4 linked regions of the Homo sapiens genome follow. The protein of the gene in region 4 interacts with the protein of the main gene of each other region in a biochemical or structural test. Each region holds a gene or a part of one and is shown on either strand. Other genes may lie near its edges. The genes, in order: SPI1, STAT6, YTHDC2 and IRF4.

Region 1 (7,310 bases), on a different chromosome or scaffold from region 4:
GAATTCCAAAGAAGTCCTGGGAATCATTTATTCTTTTTCTCTCTCCAGACCCCAGGAGCCCAGGCTGGGCTGGGGGATGGGGGCGTGGCAGGCCCCGTACTCACCGCTATGGCTCTCCCCATCACTGCTGAGATAGGGGTAATACTCGTGCGTTTGGCGTTGGTATAGATCCGTGTCATAGGGCACCAGGTCTTCTGATGGCTGCTGAGAGAGGAGGTGTCAGGGCCTGCACCATGGTGGGAGACCCCAGCCAGGCCTGCAGCACCCCCGCACGCTGGGTCCCCATCACCTTCCCTGGCTCAGTGGCTGCGTTGGACCTACAGCCCTCCCTCTGCCTGGAACTGGGACAGAGAGTGGGGCAGGGGACCCAGAAGGCCTGAAAAGGGGTGACAGGGACCTTGGGGGTGAGAGGTCAGAAGAGGACCAGGGTCCCCCTCTGCTGGGCTACTCCCCATAGCCACCTCACGCTCACACTCACACTCACGCCTGTGTGCCCCCATCCTCATCCCACACACCTCTCCTGGTCACACTGATGCACATGTCCACACGATCCCTGTGTCACCCTCACACTCATAATCCCACACGAGGACTCACTCTCACAGCCCCTACCCACCCCCATGCAGGCGCCTGCACACTATCCCTCACACACACATCTTCATACCCACTCAGAGGTCACCCACCTCACAGAGACATTGTACACTCAGCTCATGCACACACGCAGAGTCTCCTTGATTGACACTCACATGACACCACGTTCCAGCCATCAACACACACACTCACACCCCCAGAGCCACTCACATTCCACCTGCACACTCAACCGCACAGCACACACTTGCCTGCCCAGCCCCACTCTCACAGCCTATGCCTCTCACACAGCCTGGGCAAGAGTGGCACCACAATGACCCTCCACACTGACGGTTGGTGCAGGGGTCACCCAGGCAGACTTAGGGGCCGAGCGCATGGAGGGCCTTGATCCCCTCACTCTCCCTCCTGAGTCCTCCCTATCCTCCTCCTTCCCTCCTCACTGCATCCCCCTCCCCGTCTCCTTTGCTTCCTCCTCCCCCTCCTCACTCCCCTCTGTCCTCCTTTTCTTCCCCCTCTTCCCTGTCCTCCTTCTTTCCTCCCACCTTCCTCCCTCCTCCCTGTCCTCCTCCCCCTACTGGCACAGACACAGGGCCGTGCACACCCAGGAGCCTTCCCAACAGTCATCAGGCCTCCCCGCCCCCGCAGCGTGTGGCCCAGGATTGCATAACAGTCACTGTGGCCCTTAGGGCTGGGCTTGGGGGACCGGGGCTGCCTTGGGAGCCCACCCTACCAGGAGACACTCAGAGTGACCCTGGAGCTTGCAGAGAGGGCTGGGGGTGCCTAGGGATGGCCCAAGGAGCTCTGCCACCCATCTAGCTCCACCTGGAGTTCAGAATTGAGAGGTCAGGGATCAGAGACAGTGGGCCTGTGGCTTTCTTGAGGCAGAATTGGCTCTTTCTGAGACAACCTCCGTCACCCTCTGCCTGGGCCGCCCACTTCGTGTTCCCAGGTGGGAAGGGGTGTCGGTGTGGATGCCACAGCAGGCTGGCTGGTCCTGCCTGGTCCTGCCTGTGGCTGGCCAAGTGAGGAGGCCAGGAGCCCAGCACTGAGCCTGCCCCTCTGGGTTTCCAGGTAGTACAGCCTCGCTGCAGGATGTCAGCCCGGCTCTGGTCGGGTTGGTGTGATGTCAGGCCTGGGGTGCCTCCCAGCCTCCTGGGGTGGCTCTGAGCCAGGGCATAGTGGGGGAAGGGAGCTGCCTCTAGACCAGGAAAGTGGATTCAGGTGGGCAGCCTGCCAAGCCCTTCCCGGCTCCCCTCAAGCCTCCTCACTCCTGAGAGGTCATGGGGTGGGAAAAGGGAGAAGGGTCCTTTCCGAGGGACCCTGGTCTGACACCTGCCTAAGGCTGCAACTGTCACTGAGAGTGAGGAGCAGTGGCGATCTGCCCTTCTCTTCTCGGGGTCCCCTGGGGCTCCCACTTCTTCACCCCCAAGACCCAGTCCCTGTCCTTGTCCCAGCCTCAGCCCCCATTCTCACTTATCACATGCTCACCCCAGGTCCCACCCAGCCCCAATCTCAGTCCTGGCCTTGTCCCAGCCCTGTCCCCTGCCGCGCCTCTCCCTGAACTCCAGCCCTGGGGCCAGCCCTAACTGCACTGTCTCAGCTCCACTCCTGGCTCCTTTCCAGCACCAGTCCCTGTCTCCTGTGGGTACCCCTGTGGGCCCATGGCCCTGACCCTTTGGTCAACAATCATGTCCTCTGTGCCAGGCCCCAGACTGGGCGTTGGGGACCCAGAGTTCCATCAGCTTTGGTTTCCAGGAGCCCCAAGGCCATGGGCCAAGACTTCTGCCCATTGCCTCCTGCCTTCAACCCCTTCCCATCCAGGGGACCGGCCTCCCCCAAGCCAGTCCCCCCATCTCCCTCCTCTACCTCTCTACCACCGCCTTCACCATCCTCAGCCCAGCACCCTCCCCAGGAGCCCCGGCCTCCGCCTGCCACCCGAGCCCTGTCTATAAATAACTGTTCAGGCCCCACCGATCACAGCCCCACCGTGGGCCTGGCCTCAGCCCGCCAGGGCATGCTCCGAGGAAGCCAATGGCCCCCTCGCTGGGTCTCAGGCCAGGAGTTCCAGGGAGGAAACCCTGACTTCCCACTGATAGCAAGCCAGGAGGGCAGTGGGTGGGCTGGCGGGTTCGTGGGCAGGCAGGCAGGCGTCCGAGGGCCACGGGTTGGGCTGGTGGAGGAGTCCCGGTACTCACAGGGGGGACGAGGGGAAACCCTTCCATTTTGCACGCCTGTAACATCCAGCCGGGCTCCGAGTCGGTCAGATCCCCTGCCTCGGTGGGGGCCAATGCAGAGCCCCTCAGGATGGGGTGCCCCGTCAGGGGCTGGACGGTCGTGGGGCGGGTGCAGGGCTCAGGCCTGCCCCCTGAGCTACAGGAGCCCTGGGTGAGCCCCCTCCCTTGACATTGCAGGGCCAGCACAAGTTCCTGATTTTATCGAAGGGCCTGCCGCTGGGAGATAGTCCCCTTGGGGTGACATCACCGCCCCAACCCGTTTGCATAAATCTCTTGCGCTACATACAGGAAGTCTCTGGCCGGCTGGGGCAGGTGGTGCTCAAAGGGCTGGCCTGGGAAGCCATGGGGTCCAGGCCCCCTGCCCAGAGGAAGCTGGGACTGAGAGGGATGACTTTGGGGGCTAAGCTGGGGAGGGAGGATGGGAGGGAGAACGTGTAGCTCTGCCACACCACTGGGAGGCTTTTGCTCTAACCCAACAAATGCCTGCTTCTTTTGAGATCCCTATGTAGCCAACAGTCACCTCATTGGGGTCAGAGCTGGAAGGGGTGGCCTCTTGGGGCCTCCACTTTCTGGAGTCAGCCTTCCTGGGTGAGGGCTCTGATCTAGCAGGCTATCAGGCCTGGCTCTTCCTGTGGCCCTGCACCCCCACTGCCTAGGCTATCCCTAGGCTGAGGCTGGGCTCAGGTGTAGGGTCTTCAGCATAGTGCTGCTTTCTTCCTTCCCTCTGAATCTGTTCACATGGGCTTCCCTACCACCAGAAGAGGGTCCTGGGTTCTTATACCCTCCCCTCCCAGCTTCTTGATTACCACATTCAAATCCCTAGGGCTCTGTTTCCAGCCCAGGTTTCTCAGTTTCCCCATCCCTTGGCAATGCCTGAATATCAATCTAACCCTCCTGGTTTACAAACCTTTCTTGCCTATCCACCATTCATCTGTTTTCCCATGCATCTATTTGTCTGTCTATTTGTCCATCCAGCTATCCATTCATCAAGCCCACCATGCATTCACTTATGTGTCCATTTATCCAACTGTCCGTTTGTTTGTTCATTCATCTGTCAGTCAATTCATCCACCCACCCATCTGTTTATCTACTTGTCTATCTAACCATCTATATGTCCATTAATCAGCCCGTCCACCTGCTATCAGTCCATCAGTCCACAATTCCATCTGTTTATCCATCTATGAATCTGCTCATCCATTCATCCACCTGTCCATCCATCCACCCATCCACTCATCCACCCATCTACCCATCCACTCATCTGTCCATCAACCCATCCATCATCCACCTACCCCTTCATTCATTCATCCATCCATCCACCAGTCCACTCATCCACCCATCTACCAATCCACCCACCTACCATTCCACCCATCTATTCATCCACCTATCCATCCATTCACCTATCAGCTTCGGTTTCCAGGAGCCCCATGAGAACAGGCAGTATTTGACTTTCTGTTTCTGCGTTGTTTCGCATATGATAATGTCCTCCAATTCCATCCATGTTGCTGCAAAGACATAATTTCATTCTTTTTTATGGCTGAATAGTATTTCATTATATATATATATAAATACAATATAACATGTTATTTATTCACTCACCCGTTGATGGACACTTATGTTGATTCTGTATCTTTGCTATTATGAATAGTGCTGTGATAAACATACAAATGCAGTATCTTTTTGGTATCACTCATCCATCCAGCCATCCATTCATCCATCCATCCATTCATCCACCTATCCACCCATCTACCCATCTACCCATTTACTCATCCACCTGTCCACCAATCCAGCTATCTACCCATTCATCCATCCACTCATCCACCTATCCATCCATCCACTCATTCATCCAGCCATCCACAAATCCACCCATCCACTTATCTATCCATCCATCCATTCATCCATCCACCAATCCACTCATCCACTTATCTATCCATCCATCCATTCATCCATCCATCCATCCACTCATCCACACATCTACCGATTCACTAATCCACCCATCCACCAATCCACTCATCTACCCATCCATCTATCCATCCATCCACTCATTCATCTATCTGTCTATCCACTTATCTGTCCATCCATGCATCTTCCCAATGTTGAGTTCCAGGCTCTAAGCTGAGCGCTGGGAAAACAAAAAAGTATTATACAAGACCCCTGCCTTCAGAGAGTTCCTGATCTTTTCTGGGGGGTGGAGGGATGAGTAGAGGCATTTTTGTTTTGTTGTTGTTGTTGTTGTTGTTGTTTTTCTGGCCCAGTGATCTCTGGTGAGTCCCCTCTGCTGGGAAGGAATTTTGAACATTCAGTGTCCTCCCCTGTATAATCTAACCCCTTGCTTTAAATTCCCACTCCACTAAGACAGGCCTGCCTTCTTGCCAGTGGATTCCTAGGCCACAAGTGTTTTTTCATTAGCAGCAAACACCAGAATTTCACAGCTCTGGGCTCACCATTAGATCTACTTGACTTCCACCTTCACTGACTTTGTATCTGCACTTGGGACTCTCCAAAGGCTCCAGGCCACAGGTCCTCAGGGCTCCCTAGGAACCTGACCAAGGCCTCTCCCAAAAAGGAGGGGAGGGACAGGTTGGCTTGGCATCAGTTCCATCCTTGTTCCCACTTCCCCATCAAGAAGGCCAAGCCCCAGCTGACTGGGTGCAGTGGGGTGTAAGGTTATCCACTCCACAAGATCTAGGCCCTGCTTGATGTGTTCATTCATTCACTCGTGTGTGTTATTGTCTTGCTTTGGTTTGTTTATATGCTTATTTATTCATTCATTCATTTAATCACTTTTTTGTATAAATGTAAGGGGTACAAATGCAGTTTTGTTCCATGGATATATTGCATAATGGAGAAGTCTAGGCTTTCAGTTTATCCATCACCAGAATAGTGTACATTGTGCCCTTTAAGTAATTTCTCATCCCTCACCATGCCTCCCCACTCTCCCACCCTTGCAAGTCTCCAGTGTCTGTCATTCCACATTCTATGTCCATGTGTACACATTATTTAGCTCCTACTTATACATGAGAACAGGCAGTATTTGACTTTCTGTTTCTGCATTGTTTCGCTTATGATAATGGCCTCCAATTCCATCCATGTTGCTGCAAAGACATAATTTCATTCTTTTTTATGGCTGAATAGTATTTCATTATATATATATATATATATAAAAATATAACATTTTATTTATTCACTCATCCGTTGATGGACACTTAGGTTGATTCTGTGTCTTTGCTATTATGAATAGTGCTGTGATAAACATAAAAATGCAGTATCTTTTTGGTATAGTGATTTATTTTCCTTTGGTTAGATACTCAGTGAGATTGCTGGATCAAATGATATTTCTTTTCCTTTCTTCTTTTCTCTCTTTTTCTTTTTCTTTTGAGACTGAGTTTCGCTCTTGTTGCCCAGGCTGGAGTGCAGTGGCACAATCTTGGCTCACTTTGCCTCCCGGGTTCAAATGATTCTCCTGCCTCAGCCTCCTGAGTAGCTGGGATTACAGGCGCCCGCCACCACGCCCAGCTAATTATTGTATTTTTAGTAGAGATGGGGTTTCATCATTGTTGGCCAGGCTAGTCTCAAACTCCTGATCTCATGTGATCCACCTGCCTCGGCCTCCCAAAGTGCTGGGATTACAGACGTGAGCCACCATGCTTGGCCAGTTCTTTTTCTTTTGAGACAGAATGCCACTTTATCACTGAGGCTGGAGTGCAATGGCGTGATCTTGGCCCACTGTAGCCTGGACCTCCTGGGCTCAAGCGATCCTCCCGCCTCAGCCTCTGGAGTAGCTGGTACTATGGATGTGTGCCACCTGTAGTCTCATCTAATTTTCTGTATTTTTTGTAGAGATAGGGTTTCACCATGTTGCCCAGGCTGATCTTGAACTCCTGGGCTCAAGCAATCCACCTGCCTCAGCCTTCCCAAATGTTGGGATTATAGGTGTGAGCCACTGCATCTGGCCAAAAGGTAGTTCTGTTTTTAGTTCTTTGAGAAATCTCCATACTCTTTTCCGTAGAGGTTGTCATTTAATCACTTACTTTTTATTGAGTGTCTTCCATGGTCTGGGCCTAGTAAGGGGGATAGACATGAATGAGGCATACTCGGAGCCTCCAGCAGCTTACAGGCCTGCAGAGGGTCATGTGAGCAGATAGTGGGGCAAGAGAGGAGGTGCCAGGTACACTTGGTCTCAAAGGTGCATTAGGGAACCATTGATTGGGTCAGGGTCCCAGATAGGATGGCTTAGGGAAGCGTGCAGGGGGAAAGCATGTCTGGCTGAGAATCAACTTAAGCAAAGGAAACGAAGAGGAAAACAGGAAGCCACCATCTTTGCAGCTGGAAGCAAAGCAGGACAGGAAAGCAAAGAGCCTTGAGTGCCAAGCCAAGGAGCCTGAGTCGTGTGCAGGGATGGCTGTGGAGTCTTTGCTGGTTGTAAGCAAGGAGTATGGGGGCTGTCCTCCGTGGGTGCAGCCAAGAAACACAGTAGACTGTGTGTTCCCGAGG
Region 2 (7,107 bases), on a different chromosome or scaffold from region 4:
AGCCAGGGACCTCCCATAGATAGCCCTCCTAGGGACCGTCCCCACCACCACTCATGGCCAGACCACCTTAAACCAGGGGCATCCTGAGTCAATGCCTGAGATGGGGGTAACTCCTTCAGTGATAGACACAGGGGTGGGAAGAGCTGAGCTGTAGCCAGAGGGATGGGGAGGCAAAGGGAGACAGGGCAGTAGAGCGAGAGCTCTCTTAGAGTGGCAGAGGATTTAGTTGCAGCTCTAGACCTGGCTCTGGTTCTGTGGGCAAAGAGCCTTCCCTTTGTGGGCTTCGATCTTCTCATCTATAAAATATGAGTGTTAGATGAGTGGAAAACTTTCCAAACTTTTTAAAGCGGTAGGCAATGTCAGCTTTTAATCTGTGGAATCTCAATTACATAAAAGGTACGAAACCGAAGATGCCCTGTTGAAAGCAAGCATGGAAAGCCTGAAACTCGACTGCTTCTACTTCCCTCTCCCCACCTCCTGACGCCAAAGGCATCCCTAGACAAACCTCTCAAAATTCTAGGACTCCATGAGATAATTTGAAAACCACAAGGCTCGGCCAGGCGCAGTGGCTCATGCCTGTAATCCCAGCGCTTTGGGAGGCCGAGGCGGGCAGATCACGAGGTCAGGAGATCAAGACCATCCTGGCTAACACAGTGAAACCCCATCTCTACTAAAAATACAAAAACAAAATTAGCAGGGCGTGGTGGCGAGCGCCTGTAGTCCCAGCTACTGGGGAGGCTGAGGTGACAGAATGGCGTGAACCTGGGGGGCGGAGCTTGCAGTGAGCAGAGATCGAGCCACTGCACTCCAGCCTGGGCGACAGAGAGAGACTCTGCCTCAAAATAAATAAATAAATAAATGAAATAAAATAAAAATGAAAACCACAAGGCTAGATGATGAAGAGGATGGGAGAGTAATAACAGCTACTATTTGTTAAGCACTTACTGTGTATGAGGCATTACACTCAGTGTATTATCTCCTTCAGGCCTCACGACACTTTTTAAAATATATAATATCCCATTTTATAGATGAAGAAACTGAGGCTTAAGGAGTTTCTCTACTCTGCCCAAGGCCACTCAGTAAGTGAGTTTGGAAAGCAGGCTTTGAATCTGAGTGGGGATTAACCATCGCACTGTGTTGTTAGGATCCCTTCCAGGGGCAAATCTGATCATCCTAAGAAGTGGGGGAAGGTGGGAGGAGACTTGAAGGAGGAGAGGTGGAAAAGGAAAGTAGAGAGAACTAAGGAAGAGGATGGAAGAGACTGGAAAAAAGGCGGGTTTAGTAAGCTAGGAGGAAAGAGCCTAGAAGAGAGAGGAAGCTGGAGGGCTAGAAGGCAAAGATGAGAGACGAAAACAGGTAGAAAGGAGAGGAGGGGACAGGGAAGTAGAAGAGGGGGTTGCATCCCCATTTCCAGGTTCAGGGAGGACTGGGTAACCAGTGGTTTCCCAGGGGCCTCTCAGTTCACGTTTCTCATAATATCCCTCTCCCAGAGATGAGGGAGAGGATGGGATGACAACTCCCCAGGTCTCCCCAAACCCAGTAACCCCAAGTCCTCCTGTTGCACGTTCAGCCTCTCACCTCTCCCAGGCCTCTCAGAGGGATGGAAAATGGAGAGGTCCCTTCTCTGGACGTTTCTGCTCCAAGACCTTCATGCCCCTCTTTCCTCCAGTGCCCACTTACCCCAGCTCTTTTCTCCTCAAGGCAGAATCCTTACCCCTCCTGCTCAGGTTCCTCCAATAGGCCTTTCTCTAGCCCAAGAGAGAAAGGTCCTCTGGAGTGAGTGGGCACCGCTTTCCTCTGCATCCCCTTGCAGAGTGACCAGCCTCCTGGCATGGCCCTGGCTAGAAATATCCAACCCCTCTTCTTCCCCAGCCATCAGGAGGACACATTTCTCCCCACCCCAACCCATAACAAGGCTGGGTCGATTGGCTTGACCAGGACAGGGGCACCTTTTGTCTTCAGCCCCTTGAAGGGGAAGGGAGGGAGGAGCCACGGCGTGAGGGGCGGGGCCAGTGTTACCTCCCAAACTCAGAAGGGAAGCGCAAGGTCTGGGATCCTCGTCCGCCCGCTTGGTGGCCTAAACTCGCTTATCTCAACCCCTATCTGCCCGAGTCCTCTGATTGTGGGACCACAGGATCGAAAGTTAAAACAGCTTCTCTGAGTTGCCCAATGCGTGAATGTGGCGGTGGGGGCAGGCGGGGAGGTGGAGCCAGTTCAGCACGAGGAGGGTTAACTCGGCGCCGCCGCTGGGAAATCTCAGCGTCTACAGCAGCCAAGCGTGGAGCAGTTTTGAGGGGGAAATTCCCCCTCGTCTGGGCCACCATGAGGTCTACATCTGGGGCTTGCTCACGCCCCAGCCACACCCTTGAACAGGAACCTTTAGTGGAGGGCAGGATAGGGGTTTAACAAGGATCCACTGCCCTCTGGCATCAACCTTCCAGGGAGGGGCGGCCACTTCCCCCGACTCAGGGCAGAGGGGCACTCCTTCACCTCCTTTCCCTGACTTTCCATGGCCCTGGGGGTGCAGGGGTGAGGCTGTGAAAACGTGACCCATGGGGGAGGGGAGTACTGAGGCCTGGACCCTCCCAGATTCCTCCAGGAGTTCGAAACTGCTAAAACCCAGTGCCACCAGCCACCAACACTAGCTGAAACCATCTCTTGGGGACCATCCACCCAGCCAGGGGAGGATCCCGAGAGCTCCCCCCACGAATCCACCCCCATGCACTCATAGAGGCCCCCGCACCCACCTCGGAGGCAACCCCTCACCTCGGCAACCCCTCTGCTGTCTTCTCCCTTTCTCAGCGGGCACTTCCAGGCCCCATAGGTCTGTAGCTCTGTCCAGCGAGTTCAAGGCTGGCCCTGCTAGCACCTCCCCCCTTCCACCACCACCACCAAAAAGAAAAATAAGATAAAGCACACACATACATACACACACACACACACACACACACACACACTCCTCTCCCGTCCTCCCTCTTCAGTGTAAGCAGTGGCTGCCCCAGCCCGCTGTTTCCGGCTTCTCCTTCTACCCAGGTCCCTCCCTGGAGCTCTGACGACACAGAGAAGAGAAAGTGGGCTGGAGGAGGAAGAGGAAGAAAGTGGGGTGAATATGTGTGCCTCCTGTGCCGAGTGGGGGAACACGTGGGGGATCAGGACTGGGGTCCAGGCCTTGGAGCCAGGCTTGGGGGGAGGCTGACCCCCACTTACTCTGTCCCCCTCAAAAGCATCAGCTTTTCTCCAGAAAGTCACCCAATATCAAACAGAGATTTGCCACCCCTAACTGCCTGGCTCCCAAACTCAAACTCTGCCAAGGGCTGGGGTTTGGACCCACAAGGGACTGGGCTCCCCAGGGCCTCAGGAAAAGTAAATCCCTCTGGACTCTGCGCTCCCTCCAGTGGAGGACCCTAAAAAGCCGCCAGGGAGCTCGATGCCAGCCAACTCCTAGGTCCCCCTCCCTTCCGGCAGGGAACGCCTTAGAGGTCGGTCTCGTGACCACTGACGGGAGGGAGTGGGGGAGGGGAACCCTCAGCTCAGAATTCTGGAAGACTCTAGGAGTCCCTTGGACTGAAGCTGGTCTTTGCTCTCTCCTCACAGGGCACCCCTCCTGAGACTGTGGTGGGAACCAGCACAAGCCGGAGCTGCTGCCTGCAGATTCACAAGGGGCAAGTTTGAATACGAATCTGCTGTGTTCCTATCTGCCAAGTTCCTATATGTTTCTGGGGTAAACACTGAGACACGCCAAGAAACAAACACACACATGCACAACTTCCCTGACCACAAGACTACACACACACACACACACACACACACACACACGTGCAGGCAGGCTCACAAACAGAGCCCATTGCAATCACAACACCACACACACACACACACACACACACACACACACACACACACAGTCTTGCTCAACTTCTGAGTCATCAACATAACTAGTGGAGGGTTCTGCAGTTTTTGCTGGGGGAGGAGCTGGAGGAGACCAAGGGATCCAGAGAGGCCTTTACTCCCGGACACCTGAGAGCCCCGGTGTGTGGAAGAGGTGGTGTCTGAGGGGCGGTGGGAGGAAGTTTCTACTCCCCTCCTCCCTCCCATAGCAGGGGCTGGGCTGAGGGGCCAAAGCTAGGCCTATGCTGCCCCCTGGTGCCTGAATTGATTTCCAGAACCAGCTCCTCCTCCTCCATCCCTTGCTACCCCGCAGGTCTGTACATGAGTGCACGTGTGTGGACCCAGCCAGGCAGCAGAGGGTTTGAACACAGCAAAATATAGCAGTTAAAAGACTGGACTGTGGATACAGGCTGCTTGGGTTCAAATCCTGCTAATGCTGCTAACCACACAACCCTGAGCAATTTACTCTGTGATTCATTCTCGTCATCTGTAAAATGGAGCAAATAAGTCTTAACCCATAATGTGAGAATAAAATGCAGTAAAACATCTGAAGGCTTAGAACAATGCCTGACACACAGTAACTGTCAGGCACTATTTTTATGGTTCATAATAAACCAGGTATGAGGAAAGGAGAAGGGTCTCCATCCTACATAGAAGTCCCCAGATTTGGGGGTCATGTTACTGCCAAAAGGATATTGAGGGTGTATGTGCGTATGTGTTTGCTGTGTCTGCAGGACAGTGAATGGAAGAGAAGGGAGAGCAGGGGTGGAGGTGGCAGGCAGGGACTCTGTCCATTGGCTTGTCCAACAAGCCATGCTAGGATCAAGGTGTGTGCACATACGTGTTCACGGCACACGTGCTTTGTATGTGCTCCCGAGTGCCCACTCTGCCTGCAGACATCCACAGACAGTAGGTGAAGCCAGGTTTCACCATCTAAGGGTGTCAGAGCTACAAGTCCCCAAAGACTTGGAGAGGAGGAGGGAAAAGAGTAAATGTGATCTCTGACTTTGGCTCCTTTTAGGGGGTAGGAAGGCGAGGAGCAAGTACTGGTAGAAAAATAGTATATATTACTCCCTCTGTAACTGACTATACCAATGGGAACACTGTGATGTAAGGGGAAAAAACAGAATTTAGAGGCAAATCTGGCTTGGGTATGACTCCATTTAGGAGGTTCACAATCAGGTGTCAATCCCTCAAATGAGAATAATAGTTATACCTACTTCAACAGAGTCTAGGCTAGGGTAAAGTGCCTAGAGTATGAAATTTAAGGAGATACTCATCTTCAGATTGTACAATTGCAGGGTCTGTCAGACCTTCATTAATGACATCTGCACCTGCATGACTGTGAGGGTGACTGTATCACCCTCCCCTGGACCTTGACATCCCATTGAGTGGTGGTAAAGATTGCACAAGAGAGGCTCACGCCTGTAATCCCAGCACTTTGGGAGGCTGAGGCAGGCAGATCACAAGGTCAGGAGATTGAGACCATCCTGGCCAACATGGTGAAACCCCGTCTCTACTAAAAATACAAAAAATTAGTCGGGCGTGGTGGTGCGCGCCTGTAGTCCCAGCTACTCAGGAGGCTGAGGCAGGGAAATCACTTGAATCTGGAAGGCAGAGATTATAGTGAGCCGAGATCAAGCCACTGCACTCCAGCCTGGTGACAGAACAAGACTCCGTCACACACACACACACACACACACACACACACACACACACACACACGATTGCACAAGATAAAGCGTAAGGAAAAAATAACTTTATGTCTATGTACTGCTGGTTACAACCCAATAGTGAGTCACAAAATCGATTTGGTGAGTGTATCAGTTTGCTAGGGCTGCTGTAACAAAGTACTACATATTGCATGACTTAAACAACAGAAATCTCTCAAGATGCTGGAGGCTAGAAGTCCAAGATCAAGGTTAACCTGAGCAGGATTGATTGATTCCTTCTCAGGGATGTGAAGGAAGGCTCTATTCCAGGCCTCCCTCCTTGGCCATTTTCACGTTCACACACTGTTCTCTTTGTATGCAAGTCAGTCTCCAAGTTTCCCCTTTTTTCAAGGATACCAGTCATATTGCATTAGGCCCCATCCTAATGGCCTCATTTTAACTTAATTACCTCTGTAAAGACCCTATAAGGGGGTCCTTCAAAATAAGGTCACGTCCTGAAGTACTTGAGATTAGGACTTCAAGAGAATTTTTGAGGAACACAACTCAGCCCATAACAGCATCTTGATCAAGCACAATGGCTCACACCTGTAATCCCAATACTCTGGGAGGCTGAGGCAGGAGGATTGCTGGAGGCCAGGAGTTCGAGACCAGCCTGGGCAACATAGCAAGATCCCATCTCTACAAAAAAAATTTAAAACAAAATTAAAAACAAAACATAAAAAAAAACAGTGTCTTGACCTTCACTCTTTGAAACTGAAGTAAAGGCCAGGCGCAGAGGCTCATGCCTGTAATCCTAGCACTTTGGGAGGCCGAGGTGTGCGGATCATCTGAGGTTAGGAGTTCAAGACCAGCCTGGCCAACATGGTGAAGCCCCGTCTCTACTAAAAAATACAAAAAATTATCTGGGCACAGTGGCATGTGCCTGCAATCCCAGCTACCTGGGAAGCTGAAGCAGGAAAATCACTGGAATCCGGGAGGCAGAGGCTGCAGTGAGCTGAGATTACACCCCTGCACTCCAGCCTGGGCAACAGAGTGAGACTCCATCTCAAAAAATAAAAAATAAAGTGAATAAAATTAAAAAATAAAACTGAAGTAGAATAGAACAGTACAGAAAATATCAGAAGGCATCAAGCGAAGTAAGGATAAGTATTGTTTAATTAAACTTTTGTTTCAGCTTTATATATGTATCTGAATTCTTTTTTTTTTTTTTTTATTTGAGATGGAGTCTCCCTCTGTCGCCCAGGCTGGAGTACAGTGGCGGGATCTCGGCTCACTGCAACTTCTGCCTCCTGGGTTCAAGCAATTCTCCTGTCTCAGCTTCCCCAGTAGCTGGGACTACAGGCACATGCCATGACACCCAGCTAATTTTTGTATTTTTAGTAGAGACACCATATTGGTCAGGCTGCTCTCAAACTCTTGGCCTCAGGTGATCCACCCACCTCAGCCTCCCAAAGTGCTGGGATTACAGCCATGAGCCACCACTCCCGGCCCTATATGTATCTGAATTCTAAGTCATGATAAAACATACTTTTTAGTGCTGGTTGTGGGG
Region 3 (7,612 bases), on a different chromosome or scaffold from region 4:
TCCTTTTCTTCCCTCTATGTCAGTAGTTCTCAACCTGAGCAATTTTGCTCTCCAGAGGACATTTGGCAACCTCTAGAAGCATCTCTGGTTGTCACAACTGGGGTTAGGAGTGTTAGTGGCATGTAGTAGTAATGGCTATGGATGCTGTTAAACACCCTACAGTACACAAAACAGAATAAAGAATTATCCAGTCCAAAATGTCAATAGCACCAACAGTGAGAAAGCTTCCTTTACATTGATCCCACCATCCTTATTAACAAAATGAAATAGCGCCACAGAATTTTAGAGTTTTTCAATTTGGATGGCTCAAATGACTTTTCCCTCAATGTAACTCTGTGATCCTCCCAACAAAACAAAACAATTTCCTCCTGTACCACTTTTTAAAATCATTTCTAATCATCAGATCCTTGACTTGGTAGGAAAGAAAACAATGAACATATGCTCTAAAGCTTATTATTATATTGCAGTAACAGTAAAAGAAGTAAGTTCCATAAATAATTGCAACTATCTTTTGTACATCCATTTTTCAAATGAGATTTCTATCAAAAAATAAAAATATTTTTCTCAAGCAATCAACTTCAACTTTTAAACTATTTTTTTCTTACATCTTAAAATTTACCTTTGAAAGAGTTCACGGTATGCCACCCAAAAATATGTCACTCTGCCATAAGGATTATTTTGAGCTGAAGGCAATCGAGAAGAAGCAGACATAAGAAAAACTCCGCCTTCCCCTGCTTTACCAGAAAGGGAAGGACTATTCTTAACAAGAGAAACCACTCTAGACTCTTAATAGAGACAGCACCAGGGGAACCTACATAACCAACCTTGCTAAAAGAACACATATCTTCCATTAGTTTCCCCACATATACCTTCCCACAATTTACTGCACCTACAAGTTCAAAGTCCTTTTCCTTTGTCTTGTCATTTTTTAAATAAATTCATTGTTCTTTATTAAGATGCCACATAAGCCCCATGTTTGAGTTACTATCGAGTTCTCCCCTATGTATGCATGATGCATGTCTTAATAAGCTTATGTTTTTCTCTTGTTAATATGTCTTTTATCAGTCTAATTTGCAGGGTCCCAGCCAAGGAACCTAAGCTGGGTAGAAGAAAAAGCATTTTCCTAGGGAAAAACAAAACAAAACAAAAAAGGGGGGAAGAGGTAGACAGAGGGAAGAGGAAAGAGTTGAATTTGGTACAGACCTGAATCTTTTATCTACATATGATACAATTAAGAATGTGAAGTTAAAACAGTAATAAGTACTTAAATGTACTCAGAAACGTTTCTCCCTTTTTTGGGCAAATAATCTTTTTTAAAAAAAATAAGAAAAGCTACCAGCTTACCCTTTACTTTTAGAGACCAAACCAAGAGACTGACTGAGTCGATGAATAAAGGCTCTTTCAGTACTGGTCAAAGAAGAAGGAAATTCCATTTCTACACGGAAAAAAAACAAAGTAGTAAAATTTGTAGATAGGCAATTTTCTCTCAAGTAAAACACACAGATACAAAATATGAAAAACATACATAGACAATCAAATTTATTATACTTTATTTGAGGTTAACTTTATATTTCATATTCTATTTATGTAAATTAATAAAATTAAGATATTTTATTAATTCAATAACTACTGAATGTCTATCAGAATTCTGATATTAATAAAAAGACAGCTATGTATTAAACCTAAATGTGATAAAGGCCTCTGATATTCACCAAAAACGACTCCTCTTACTTGTTCTGGAATTTTGAGTTGGTATAATGACTGAACATATTTAACTTGGTCCCTACTTGTTTAGTTAACAAAATGTTTATTTTCTTCAATGATGAGATATGTTCAAATATTATGAATTCTCAACATGAAACTCCATTGTCTTTGCTTTCAAAACTGTACAGAATTCGTATTTCACTATTTCAGAGGGATTTGTTATATATTGCTGAGGCTTTCTCTTTTTTTAATGTGAATTTAGAATCTCTCTGTCTAGAACATTCCCCGTTTTGGACTATAAGATTCCAGAGTAAGAGGTCCCCTAACTAAGCCAGCAGGTCCGAATGAGCCCTCAACAGACTGCACAGGTCACCGCAGGTCAGTTGCTGGTTCTGCATTATATGACCCAAGACAAGTGGCTATCTAACCTCAAGAGGTGTGGAAGATGCTTCGTGTGCCAAACAAGTTTAATTTAAGTGGGTAGCGTGATGCTTCAGGGTCCAAACGTATTGCTGGTGCATTTATTTATATGTTTGATTTCTTTCTGCTCTTCTACATCTGTAGCTTAAACGTGCCACAATTAGGTGACACCCCCTTAAAAAGGGTTAGGGCTAACCAATATCTGAAACACGGTGGCTTAACCGCCCAAGGCTGCTGAAAGACGCGGGGGAAAAACACTTTCAGCTAGGGAGCAAAGTGCCCATAACCCCATTGATCCGCAGAGCACCTCGCATTCCACCGCAGGGCCAACAGCCGCGTTCCAGACCCGGGTGCCGCCGCTGAGGCCCGCCCCGGACGGTGGCCCGGGTCTTCCCTCCCTCTTCGGAGGCACCCCCATCACTCGGTGGGCCGCCGTTTGGGGGGCGCTGGGGTGAGGGGGGTATCCTGACTGCCAGCATGGTCCCTGTCCGGAACCTCACCTCTCTGGTCCCCGTATCGGAAGCGCTCCAGCGCGATATTGACTGCGATCTTCACCTCCTCATCAATGCGAATGTCCTTCAGCCCCTTGGCCCGGCCGCCGCCCCCAGGGCCACAAGGCGAGGGGCCGCCGCCTCCGCCACCGCCAGGAGCCGGCTGCCGCGGGGAGACGCTGCTCGGCCTGGACATTGCCCTGAAGAGATGGTCTCTCCGCACGGGAGCGGCCAGGCCTGCTAGCTGACAGCCAATGACAAAGACCGTGGGAATCCGGGGCCACTACCGGGAAGCTCCGGAGACGGCCTGTGTTGGGCTGAGGTCACCAGAAAGGCCTCAGTCACCGCCACAGCAGAAGTGAAGCCTGCGCCATTGATATCACGGCCAGGCGAGGAGCGCGGGCGTAATGACGTCACCAGGGCCGGCGCCCGTGACCTCAGCGCGGCCGCCGCTGCGCGCCTAAAGGAGGCTGTCTGCGGAGCTATGGTGCGGTTCTCTTCCCGCGCCGCCCACCAAGGGTCGCTCCTCATCTTCTTATTCACTCACTTGCTACTTCGTTTAGTCCTTCATTAATTCCTGCAGTAAGCATGTATGGGCTTCTACTGTGGACCTGGCATTATGCCACGCCTTCGATGTACATTGGAGAACCAGAGAGCCAAGGTTCCTACCTTCATGGAGTTTATATTTTAGTGGGAGGAGGGTTGCCAGATTTAGCAAATAAAAATACAGAATGCTTAATAATTTGCATTTCAGATAAACGAATAATTTTTAGTGTATATATTTCCCATGCAATATTTGGAAAAATATCATAAAAAATACATATACTAAAGAATGAGCCACTGTTGTGTGTCTTGCATTCTTCCCTTTTCTGAATGGGAGATTTTAATGCAAGTATGCCACCCTTGCTCTATCACGCTACACAGGGTAGCTGAGTGGGGGCAGGTATGTAGTACATATTTACATAGTTCATGAGTTACCTGGCAATGAGGATATACATCTGGATCTAATAAAGAGGACTGTGTATCAACAACAGATCCTGGATGCAGTGACTAGATAGAATTCCAGGTGTCTGGGGAGGGTATATGTGTATTCTGTGTGTGGTAAGAAGGGGGCGGAATATTTGGTGACAAGAAGTATCTTTTCTTCCTAGGCATTATATTTCCCAACTCTCCTGCAGTTAGCTGGGGGCCACATGGCTGAGTTCCGGCCATTGGAATGTTGCTGGAACTGATGTATACCACTTCCAGGATTGGTCTATAACACCTTCCTTGAATCTTCCCTTCTCTGTCTTTCCTGGTCTTCTGGAAGTTCTTAGACAACGGTGGAACCACTAGATAGATAACAGGTTCCCGATTCCCTGAACGAGTGTGATAGAGTGTCCTCACCAACCCACATTGGAATATGACATGGGTAAGAAATAATTCTTAGTTGTGGTAAACTGCTGAGATTTGGGAAGATTTTTTTTTGTAACATTATGGTAAATTGTTGAATTCATCAAAGGTATGGCCTTTGATGAATCACACATTCCTCTGTTCACACCCTTGTATTCTTCCTTCCCACATGGACTCTGTCTTTGGCTATGTAACTTGCTTTGGCCATTGGGACATCAGCAAATACGAGATAAGCAGGGGCTTGAAAGGTGTTTGTGCATTAAGGCTTAGCCTGTTTTGCTGCTGAGAATTCTTCTTCCACAAAGTAAAGAAGCTTAGGCTAGCCCACTGACAACTATGGCCCAATCATCCACCAGCACCAAGGGCAAGACGTGAAAAAGGCCATAATGGAAAGTCTAGTCTTAGAAAAGCTGCTGGATGACCACAACTCTGTAAGCAACCCAAAGCAAGATTAGCAAAACCACCTAGCTAAACATAGTCCAAACTGTTGACCCACAGAACACATAAACAAATAAAATGAATATTGCTGTAAGCCACTAAGTTTTAGGTTGGGTTTCTTACACAGCAGTAGATAACTGATACAAAGAGTTAGCTTATTCTGACTAATATATTTGTACAATGATAAGGCTGATCTTGGGCATAAGTGACTAGGCTGAAAGAACTAGCTTCACCCGTTCCAGTTTGTACCCAGTTGCCTAAGAACTGGGGTCATCAACATCTTGATATGCCTGTAAACAACTTGTGGCATACGAGCATGCCACAGCACAGTGGTCTGGAGACTGCTCTCTTCTCATCTATAAAATTGACCTGGTAGAGTAATAAAGTCTTAAAATATAACCAACATGATTTTATTATTGATGCTAGGGATATTTCCTCCCACCCTTTGCCCCCTCATCACCCCTACTTTGCCAGCCCTCCATCCCTTTCTCTCTTGTTCAGCCAGGTCATTTAGGGGTTATTATTTGGGGAAATATTGTCTTAAGTTGGTTTCGGTTCTCTGGAACTGGAAAAAGTCACATAGTAATACACCAGTAAGTTGCCAAAAAGGATCCTGAGCCCTGCTTCTCTTGGGGAGAACAAAACAAAAACCCTGAATGGTGTGGGAGATCCTGGAACAGAATGGCCTGTGCTACTTTCCCAAGGGAAGGCCAGAGAGGCAGCTCAGGAAAGAAGGTAGTGTGGTGTGCCTAGGCAGGTGAGGCGCAGTGTGGTATAGAGCAGCAAAGGGTTCCTGGTGCCCAAGAGGTGTCCAGAATTGGCAGAGATATGCCAGACCTGAAGGAATCGCACAGTTGAGAATAAGCAATGAATGACTTAACGGTGACTTATGTTGTTTGACCACCAAGGATCAGAAACTCTTTCCCACACTTACTGATGCCTTGATACTCCGTAAGTCCCCCAGAACTTAAAAGCAAGCCTAGGCAAGAGTGGCAGCCCCTGAATTAACTGAGGTTAATTACAGAGAAACTAAGTTCTTTCATATCTAAATCTATGGAATAAAATTTGTACTTAAGTAATTGTAAAACTACTTCCAGCGCTATCATTTTATATACATATCATAATATAGATGCCAAAAATTGGTATTTTTCTATACCCTGTATATGTGTCTACCTGTCTACACATTAATCAGCTTCAATGTATATTAATATGGTTAGCCACAAGGTGACACTAGAAAGCTATCTTTTGCTTATGGTTCTAGGTCTTGACCGTCATTGATTTTCATAAACGGCTTCTATGAAGTATTGTATTAACAGTAGTAATCCCTTCCAGGGACATTTTCATTTTAATAAGGGAGATGGCAGCAATGAGGTTAATAGGAGGCAATGTTCATATTTTAAAATAATAAAAATAAGACTCTCTGGAACAGGCTATCAACTAGTTTTTATTCTTGCTCTTCTTACCCACTCTCATGTGATAGGATATCCCAATCACTACAAAAAATATCAAACACTAATTTATTCAACATCCATAAATAAAAAATGTAAATAGAAATAGTCTGTTAGATCTTGGAGCTTAAAATTTAAATGACTGTTTTTACAGAATGTGCCTCAAAAACGTCTAGAACATCCTTAAACCATCTCCCAAACACTAAAAGCTCAGTCCAAAAATGTGAACACAGTAGGTCAGCAAATACATTGTGTAACTCACTGAGCAATTGCTATCTTATGTTGGGGATGACTGAGAAGAGGAGGAAAACCATCTCTTCCAGGACGTCTTGCTTATTTGATTTATAAAGGAGATGCAATTTAAAGGATTGCTTAGGAAAATAGGAAGAAAAGGTTTGGAAAAGCTCACAGGGAAGAACTTTTTTTTTTTTTTGAAACAGAGTCTTGCTCTGTTGCCCAGGCTGGAGTGCAGTGGTGCCATCACAGCTCACTGCAAGCTCCATCTCCTGGGTTCATGCCATTCTCCTGCCTCAGCCTCCCAAGCAACAAGGACTACAGGTGCCTGCCACCACATCCAGCTAATTTTTTTGTATTTTTAGTAAAGACAGGGTTTCACTGTGTTAGCCAGGATGGTCTCGATCTCCTGACCTTGTGATCCACCAGCCTCGGCCTCCCAAAGTGCTGGTATTACAGGCATGAACCACCACGCCCAGCCCACGGGAAAGAATTTTCTAAGCAAAGGAGTAGTATATAAGAGAAAGTAGCATGTCACAATCTCGAAAGCCCCTCATTGAGAACATGGAAAGGCAGGTTGAAGGGACCAAAGAAGAAAGCAGTGACACTAAATGATCAATGTGGATCTAGTCTATGGTCAGATAGCAGAGGAAATTTACCTACTGGGAAGTGGAACCATTGCATGGTTTTGAAGACAGGAGGGATATAAATTTGTCCGTTGGCATATGTCCTTATGGAATTTTAAGGAAACCATGCCCTTGGGATGCATCAAGAGTAGGATTTTAAAAATCAAGAGTAGAAATGATGACACTTTAAAGAATTTAACTGTAGTAGTAAAAAGAATCAGGTGAGAATTTATGAGAGGACGCTGCAGAACTGGGAGAATGAAGACCCCTAAGTTTCTCCTTCAGGAGACTTTTAAGAAGAACTCAGAGACGAAGAGGGAGAGTCTATTCATGGAGTTGTCTCCTGGGACCCTCTGAAGAGAACATCAAAAACCCACTGAAAACAAAAAGATTATTGCTAAATATTTAATGTTTCTGTTTTATGAAAGGATTCAGTTTTTAAACCATAGGCAAAATTTACCCATGCAGATAGCTAAAGAGGAATTGAATACATTTTTCCGTTGCTTGACAGTGTATTCATATCCCACAAAATAAGGATTTTATTTTCCCCAGGGCACACTTAGTATTTCGTAAATATAGTACTTTATTTCTTACTGATATTTTTCTTCAAAATATTCACAAGCAAAATTGTGGTAATCACTGAATTGTTGTGATGGTTATACTGGTCTTCTTTATACTATTCTTTTTACTTTGGGGTATGTTTGAAAATGTTGACAATTTTTTAAAAAAATCGTTAAGAGTCTTTCTAGCCCCAAACTGTATCAAGTTAGTAAACCTACTTACGCATTTGGGATAGGTTAAGAAAGAAGTGTTCTTTCAGGACATGCAACTACCTGGTTTGATTGGATCATCCAAAAGT
Region 4 (7,023 bases):
GAGTCCCCGGCTCCTCCTCCTTTAGTGTCGCCATGGCTGATCGCTGGACAGCCAAACAAACAGAGGAGCGTGGCACAGAGGAAGGGAACAGATAGTTAAGTACTTGGACAGAAGGGCAACAGTTCAAGTATTAAGATTTATGTTCCTTAATTTCTTCTTCTTTATGCGAAGAATTTTAGCATCTCTAAAGAATGAGGGTCAAAAAGATGCAGAAACAAGAAAACTTAACCATTACTTAGACATTACTAGATTGTAGGACAGACAAAAATGTCCCATCCAAGAGTAGCGCTCATGTTTTTTGACTCAAGAAAATAGGAAGTTTACTAACTGGCTTCCAGGAAAGGCCAAGGAGAGAAAGCCAATGGGAAGGAGGGCGGGGCAGAGGGACCCACACCAGGAAACCGCTGGCAGGTGGGGGATGGGCCTCCCCAAGGCTACAGGCACGGCTTCAGTCAAAGATTCATTTCCTTCACTCAGCAAGTGTCTTCCACAAGAACTGCAGCTCCTACATACATTAATACATTTCTTTTACGTGTGAGGCTTCTTCAATTTACATCTTACTTCCCTGAGAAATGGCACAGACATACCTACAAGCAGTCATCACTCTAGTCAGTGTCAATACTGAAAGGCAAGTTTTCTCTGTCTTCCAGCAAGACCTAATCTACAACAAATTAAAGAGCGCATTTCAGTAAATGTAAACACATCACTTGGTCAATTTTCACAGTGATCATCAATGATGGCAGTCTACAGAACACAAGAAATGCAAAGCCACCCTTCCTTTTGAAATAAGCTCATCTGCCAATCAGATGTCACTGATTTTCCATGCTTGTCTCGCCGCAATTCTCCTCAACCGCTGAACTGAAATCTCCACTTCTGAATTCCTCAAAACAGTAAGAGGGCAGTCAATTGGACGCTTTCACTAAAGTCAAATATTTACAATGAAAATCACTTGTCTTGGGTGGGTGCAGTGGCTCACACCTGTAATCCCAGCTACCAGGGAGGCTGAGGCAGGAGAGTCTCTTGAACCCAGGAGGCGGAGGTCACAGTGAGCTGAGATTGTGTCACTGCACTCCAGCCTGGGAGACAGAGCAAGACCCCGTATCCCCGTATCAAAAAAAAAAAAAAAAAAAGGAAAAAGAAAACCACTCATCTTGACATTTTTCATTCTTGAATAGAGGAATGGCGGATAGATCTGTGGTAATCTTCTGGATTGCTGATGTGTTCTGGTAAATCGTAGCCCCTCAGGAAATGTCCACTGTTTTGTTGAGCAAAATAATATAGTTGTCTGGCTAGCAGAGGTTCTACCTTTAATAAGAGATTTTAAAAAGACATTACTGAGATATCCTGCAACTGGCTCACTATTAAACAGCACTCAGATTCTAAGGAGACAGTAACGTAAAGCCCAAAGTTACATCCTAGAACACATCAAAACATTTCATATTTGGAGCCATCTAAAGAAGCAATTTTTTGGTTAGTCCTTCCATAGATCAACATGTAAAAAAACAGCCAAAGTGACTTAATTCTGGGTTAAAGATGTTACTTTCAAATCGACTGCCACTTAAAATGTACATTTAACTAAAACTGCATCAAATCAAGTAAAGTGATCAAATTAAAAGGAAGTCTGAGGGAATCTGCAGGGTAATTTAGGCCAATGATTTTGTTTTTCCACAACTGCAGTTTGAAAGAAACAAGGAGCTCATCCTGAATGATTTGATTTCTAGGTAATCTGTATAGTTCTCAACCAGAGGTAAAAGAAATAAAAAGTAAAGTTAAACAACAACAAAACTACTATTGTGGAAAAAGAGAAGCTAACTGGCCTCAAATTTATACTGTCTGGTTATTAGCGTGGATCACACTCACCAAAAAACAAAAACGCCTTAATGTTCAGCTTTTCCTGAATTTACAGCATCTAAGGCAAGCTGAATGCTCTCCATCAATCATGATATTAGAGACTGTATTTTATATATGACGACTTAAGCTAAACTCCTAAGTACCTGAAATGAATTAAATTAATAATTTTTAAAAGTGGAACTCATAGGTGTACACGTGTGTTTATTCATTTTATGGACCACGCAGCCTCGTCTTCAGCATGAGGGGGTCATCTGGGGATCCATCTTTCCCTGACTTAGAGGACAGTGACTTGCATCCATGTCAACTTTAAAACTGGATTGATGTGATAGCTGAGCTGATCATCAACTTCTTTTTTTGTTTTTTTTTTGAGACAGAGTCTCACTCTGTCACCCAGGCTGGAGTGCAGTGGTGCAATCTCGGCTCACTGCAAGCTCTGACTCCTGGGTTCAAGTGACTCCCTTGCTTCAGCCTCCCGAGTAGCTGGGATTACAGGTGCGCACCACCACGCCCGGCTAATTTTTGTATTTTTAGTAGAGAGGGGGTTTCACCATGTTGGTCAGGCTGGTCTCGAACTCCTGACCACATGATCTGCCCGCCTCAGCCTCCCAAAGTGCCGGGATTACAGGCGTGAGCCACTGTGCCCGGCCGATCATCAACTTCTTAAATGCTGCTTATCAATGCCAAGTTTATTTAGTCATTTAGCAATTCCTGTTGTTAACAATGTATCAGTTATTATTTCAACAATCATATCAATTATTAAGTCAATCACTGGAGAGAACTCATGAGAAAACTCCTGAGTCTATGGGATTATATACTGGTTGGTTGGCTGGTCTTTGTTTTTAAAATCAAGAAGGGGGGTTGTATGTTCAAGATTAAACCATGTTTCATTTCAGTTCTCAATGAGAAATAGCATCAGAGCTAGAACATGATGAGAACTTTGATGTTAGGGGGTGTAACTTTTACCTGGTATTGCTCAGCATGCAAGCCCGTTAATAATGCTTGCAAGTATGTAGCAATGTGAAGTTTTCAAATTCAAAAGTCTTAAGGGTTCAAGATTCTGTTTCCCATGGCAAATTAATGCTTCATGTTATCTATGGAAACCTTTTCTCATAAAAAAGAAAACTCTAACCCTAATCCTAACCCTACCCTTTTAGTGTTACTTGCCACAGTTGAACCCATCTTGAGCTATGCTAGAGAACATTACGAGAGGGTCTGATTTGCTTGAATTCCTTGAAAGATTCAGCCTCTTTCAAATATCATATGCCCAATAATTAAATAATTTCTAAAATTCCAGAAATAAAAGAGGTGCTAGGACACAGCTGCAGAGACCTACAAAATGCCTCCAGGGAATGGATAGTTTCTCATTTGGGAAAAGCTTTTCCATTGAATGAAGATCCACTAGCTAGATAGCATTCTTACAGCAATCTTAACCTGGAGAATTTTAAAGGGCAACTTTAACCATCAATCTTTTTCAATCCCTATAAAATGGAAATACGACAACTTTCCTGAAAAATAAAAAAGATGGGGAAAGAGGCACCCTCCTTTGAGGCTGTCCTCCCTGGTTCTTTGATGAGCAGATCTCAAGTCTGGGAGGAGCACGTGAGTCCTCAGACTGTGCTGCTCGTTGGACCATGCTTCCTCCCTCACTAGTTTAAGGGTTACGCTTATTTTTCCAGGTCATTTGACATTTACTTTTCATTTGGGACTTTTCTAAATGAAACTCTGGCCTTTACAAAGAACAGGAAGCCACTATGGTAGGAGTGTAACTGAGGACTCACGTGAGCTGTGATGAGCTTTCTTTGCCTCTGAGGGTCTGGAAACTCCTCTCCAAAGCATAGAGTCACCTGGAATCTTGGCAGGGAGCGGCCGTGGTGAGCAAACGCTTGCAGCTCTGTAGAAGCCCACAAGAAAGAGACCATGTTCAGAAACCCTCATCACCGAACACACCAGGTTAAACAGGAAGCAAGAGCTTACTGTGATTCTGAACACTGCAAGAGGAATGAGCACTCTTACTCCGCTGAGTGGGGCTCTTGATGTGAACATCTCAGATACAAAATAGCATGTATGCATTCCTTTGGGTGCTTTCCCCCCAGGGCCCTCGGTCTCCCTCGATTCTTCAAGAGGAACTAGTCGACAGCTAAAGAACACTGCTTTGCAGCATTGGACCCACGAAGATTCAAAAGGTAGTAGACCACAGTGAAGTCGGGAGATAAAGAACAAGAAACGTAGTCACGCAATGGCAAAAGACCAATTTATGCCATGGACAAGTTTTCATTTAAAAAATCAGAATGTTTCGACATCCCAGGATCATTTTAAAACCTCATCCCCTCACTACAGAGCCCACATAATCCAGTATCTGTGCTACTGCGGACATCCACGTAACTCAGGCACCACAGAAAATATGTAACGTCAACGTGGTGACTGAGCACCAGCCATCGGCAGCTGAGTCCCACTGTCACTATGCCTGAACTGTGTAACTCTGAGTAGACTTCTTGCCTGTCTCCAGGGATGGAACAGTAACTTGACTTGAGAACAGGAGTGGGGCAGCCCCCCTGGCCTCCCGCTTGTGGATATACACATGTACATCCTGAAGCCACCACACCTACCCAAAAGATACAAAACGGACTGGAACATTGTTGGAAAGACAAGTGCCCATCCCCTGACTTTAGCCCATGCTCCCTCCCCTGTACACAAGACAAATCTTCTGCCTGTAGCTACAATAAAATGTCACGCCCGCAAAAGAAACGAGTTGACACAGGAGCCGCTACAGCTTCTGCAGAACAGACGCGTCCTTATCAGATACACACCCTCGGGCCGGGCCCTGGGGGCTGTCCCTAGTGCTGTGCAGACCTGAATAGGAAGATATCAAAGATCTCCACTGTTCTCTTCAACTGAACAGAAGTTTCTAGCTAACTTACAGGACTATTTGACTTCCTGCTTTTTTTTTTTTCCAGAATTCAAATCAAACCCAAATGACTTAGTCAGAATCTGTAAAATACATTCACACTGCCGTGATCTGAGACTACACCTACACAGGCTAATCAGAATGGCGAGTTGGCACAATTCTCTGAGAAAGCATGGCTCCAACCCTAGATAACATGAGAGTGTTTGGTGGGAATCCTTAATTATGCAGAAGCTGGTTGGCACAGCTGCAGTTTTTACGTTCACAGCATCCTCCTTGAACCTCAGTGAACACTTTGAGGTGAGAGGCTGCAGTGGGCAAAGAGCACAGCCCTTGGTTACAGAGGAAGGAATGAAAGCCAAGACCAGCTCTTGCTCACAGATTAATAGTAAGTTCTAGTCGCGCAAGTCTACAGCCCCAGGACACTCACAGGCGTCCACCCCCTGCCTGTGCTGTCTCTCACGCAGTGCACCTGTGACTCAATGTGCACCTTCCAGCTTAGTCACCACGGGGGCTCTACCTCCCTAAAAACGCCCAGCAAGAGGCACTCAGAAAAGCCAGTGCCAGTTCCTTGTGACACTTTCATTAGAAAGCCCTCACCTTGTGGTATCTTCTGAATCCACTGGCACCAAGGTCCAGAGTCTTCAGAAATCCAGGCCCAGTGGGCCTTAGCCTTCCTGGCCCATGTGAGCTCTTCCAGATCCCAAGGCAGACACAGGAGATGCTGACAGGGGAGGGGGGGTCCCCCCAGTTGCCCTTCAATTTCCTTGGTCCCCCATGAACACCATGCCCAACCCCAAGAAGGATGGGACCGCCCTGGCCAGGGCTTGGGGATGGTTCTGCCCTTAGAATGAGAGGTGTCCAGCCCCAGGTGACTTCCTCACTTGCCGCCGCCTCGGGGAACCAGCACAGTTCTCCCTCTTCCTATGGTCAGCCTCTGTGTGAGCTTAGTTATTTTTTTGTGGTGCGGGGGGCAATGGAGTCTCGCTCTGTCCTGCAAACTGCAGCACCGTGGTGCGATCTCAGCTCACTGCAACCTCCGCCTCCCACAGGTTCAAGCGATTCTTGTGCCTCATCCTCCTGAGTAGCTGGGATTACAGGCGCCCACCATCACGCCCAGCTAATTTTTGTATCTTTAGTAGAGACGGGGTTTTGCCATGTTGGCCAGGCTGGTCTTGAACTCCTGGCCTCAAGTGATCTGCCCACCTCAGCCTCCTAAAGTGCTGGGATTACAGGCATGGGCCACCACACCTGGCCTGAAGCTTAGTTATCTGGGGACATATTTGCTTTGGGCACCAAAAGAAAATCTGGATGAGCTTACAAAAACTTGGGTCACTTACACCCAGAAGTACGAGCACATGTCAACAGTGCCAGAGCACACAGACGTGTCATATTTTTATTTTAAATAAGTTGAATGAAGAAGCACATTCAAGAAAAGGGGAGGCACATGAGAAATCAAAGACACAGGAGTTTCTGAAGGGGCTCAGGAAGGGACAGGACTGGGAAAAGGCAGAGGAAGAGTTGGCGGTGGGGTGGCGAGTGGCGGGTAGAGCAGCTCCCTCCCACGCGGGAGGCTCCCTCCACCTGGACAGCCCCACAAAGCCAGTGAGGAAGCCCAGCATGACAGGGCGAGGGGCTTCACAGAAGCCAGCCAGAGGTTCGCTGAATTGTCATGAAATCCAAGGTAGAAAAACAAAACTCACTGGTTCTGAAAAATATGCTTAGAAATGTTCATATCACAGAGCCAACTTATAGCACTCTCCTATAACTTCTCCTGTGCAAAACCAGTACAGTCCACTCCACCCTCCGTCTCACTCGTGGGCCAGCATCTGCATGAGGGTGACACACCTGACAACCAAGAATGTTAACAATATGCTTCCAACCTTTATGATTTTTCTGGGAACCTGAAAAGAGCCGCCACATCAGCAGACGTATTTGTCGAGATCATAGTGCAATGAAATGGAACTGTTTTAAGAGGCGACTGCTGAAAACCAGAATTGCAAGAGAACAGCCTGAGCCATGGTCCACCTGGACCATCTGATCCGGACTCTCTGCCCACAACAGAGCCAGACAGAAGATCTCTACTGGAGTCAAGCCCCAAGCCCAGTGGGCGCCGAAGTCAACAGGAGGAAGACCTCAGCCTGGGGTGGGAGGGACCCTGTGGTTTCTGACCCCTGTGGCAGGCAGGCCATCACCACCTCCATTCTAACAGATAACGAGGTGCCTTACCTGACAAGAACTGCTGTGTGTCAAAGAGCTTGCAGGTCTGG

The links.
Region 1: the proteins of IRF4 (region 4) and SPI1 are reported together in a solved structure, tested with the Homo sapiens proteins (2 studies listed by BioGRID, with this or other methods).
Region 2: the proteins of IRF4 (region 4) and STAT6 form a complex in vitro, tested with the Homo sapiens proteins (2 studies listed by BioGRID).
Region 3: the proteins of IRF4 (region 4) and YTHDC2 form a complex in vitro, tested with the Homo sapiens proteins (one study listed by BioGRID).

What each region holds. Positions count from the first base shown.
Region 1 is NC_000011.10:47,375,529-47,382,838, forward strand, and holds the start of SPI1 (transcription factor PU.1), read right to left. Parts: upstream 3,020-7,310; 5' UTR 2,826-3,019; coding exon 2,781-2,825; intron 205-2,780; coding exon of another isoform or gene 202-204; coding exon 105-201; intron 1-104. UniProt on the Homo sapiens protein: Pioneer transcription factor, which controls hematopoietic cell fate by decompacting stem cell heterochromatin and allowing other transcription factors to enter otherwise inaccessible genomic sites.
Region 2 is NC_000012.12:57,108,363-57,115,469, forward strand, and holds the start of STAT6 (signal transducer and activator of transcription 6), read right to left. Parts: upstream 3,001-7,107; 5' UTR 2,767-3,000; exon of another isoform or gene 2,360-2,766; intron 1,928-2,359; exon of another isoform or gene 1,579-1,927; intron 1-1,578. UniProt on the Homo sapiens protein: Carries out a dual function: signal transduction and activation of transcription. Involved in IL4/interleukin-4- and IL3/interleukin-3-mediated signaling.
Region 3 is NC_000005.10:113,509,095-113,516,706, reverse strand, and holds the start of YTHDC2 (3'-5' RNA helicase YTHDC2), read right to left. Parts: upstream 3,014-7,612; 5' UTR 2,812-3,013; coding exon 2,625-2,811; intron 1,437-2,624; exon of another isoform or gene 1,436-1,436; coding exon 1,345-1,435; intron 1-1,344. UniProt on the Homo sapiens protein: 3'-5' RNA helicase that plays a key role in the male and female germline by promoting transition from mitotic to meiotic divisions in stem cells.
Region 4 is NC_000006.12:401,737-408,759, reverse strand, and holds part of IRF4 (interferon regulatory factor 4), read right to left. Parts: coding exon 6,983-7,023; intron 3,743-6,982; coding exon 3,630-3,742; intron 1,995-3,629; exon of another isoform or gene 1,861-1,994; intron 1,306-1,860; coding exon 1,162-1,305; 3' UTR 1-1,161. UniProt on the Homo sapiens protein: Transcriptional activator. Binds to the interferon-stimulated response element (ISRE) of the MHC class I promoter. Binds the immunoglobulin lambda light chain enhancer, together with PU.1.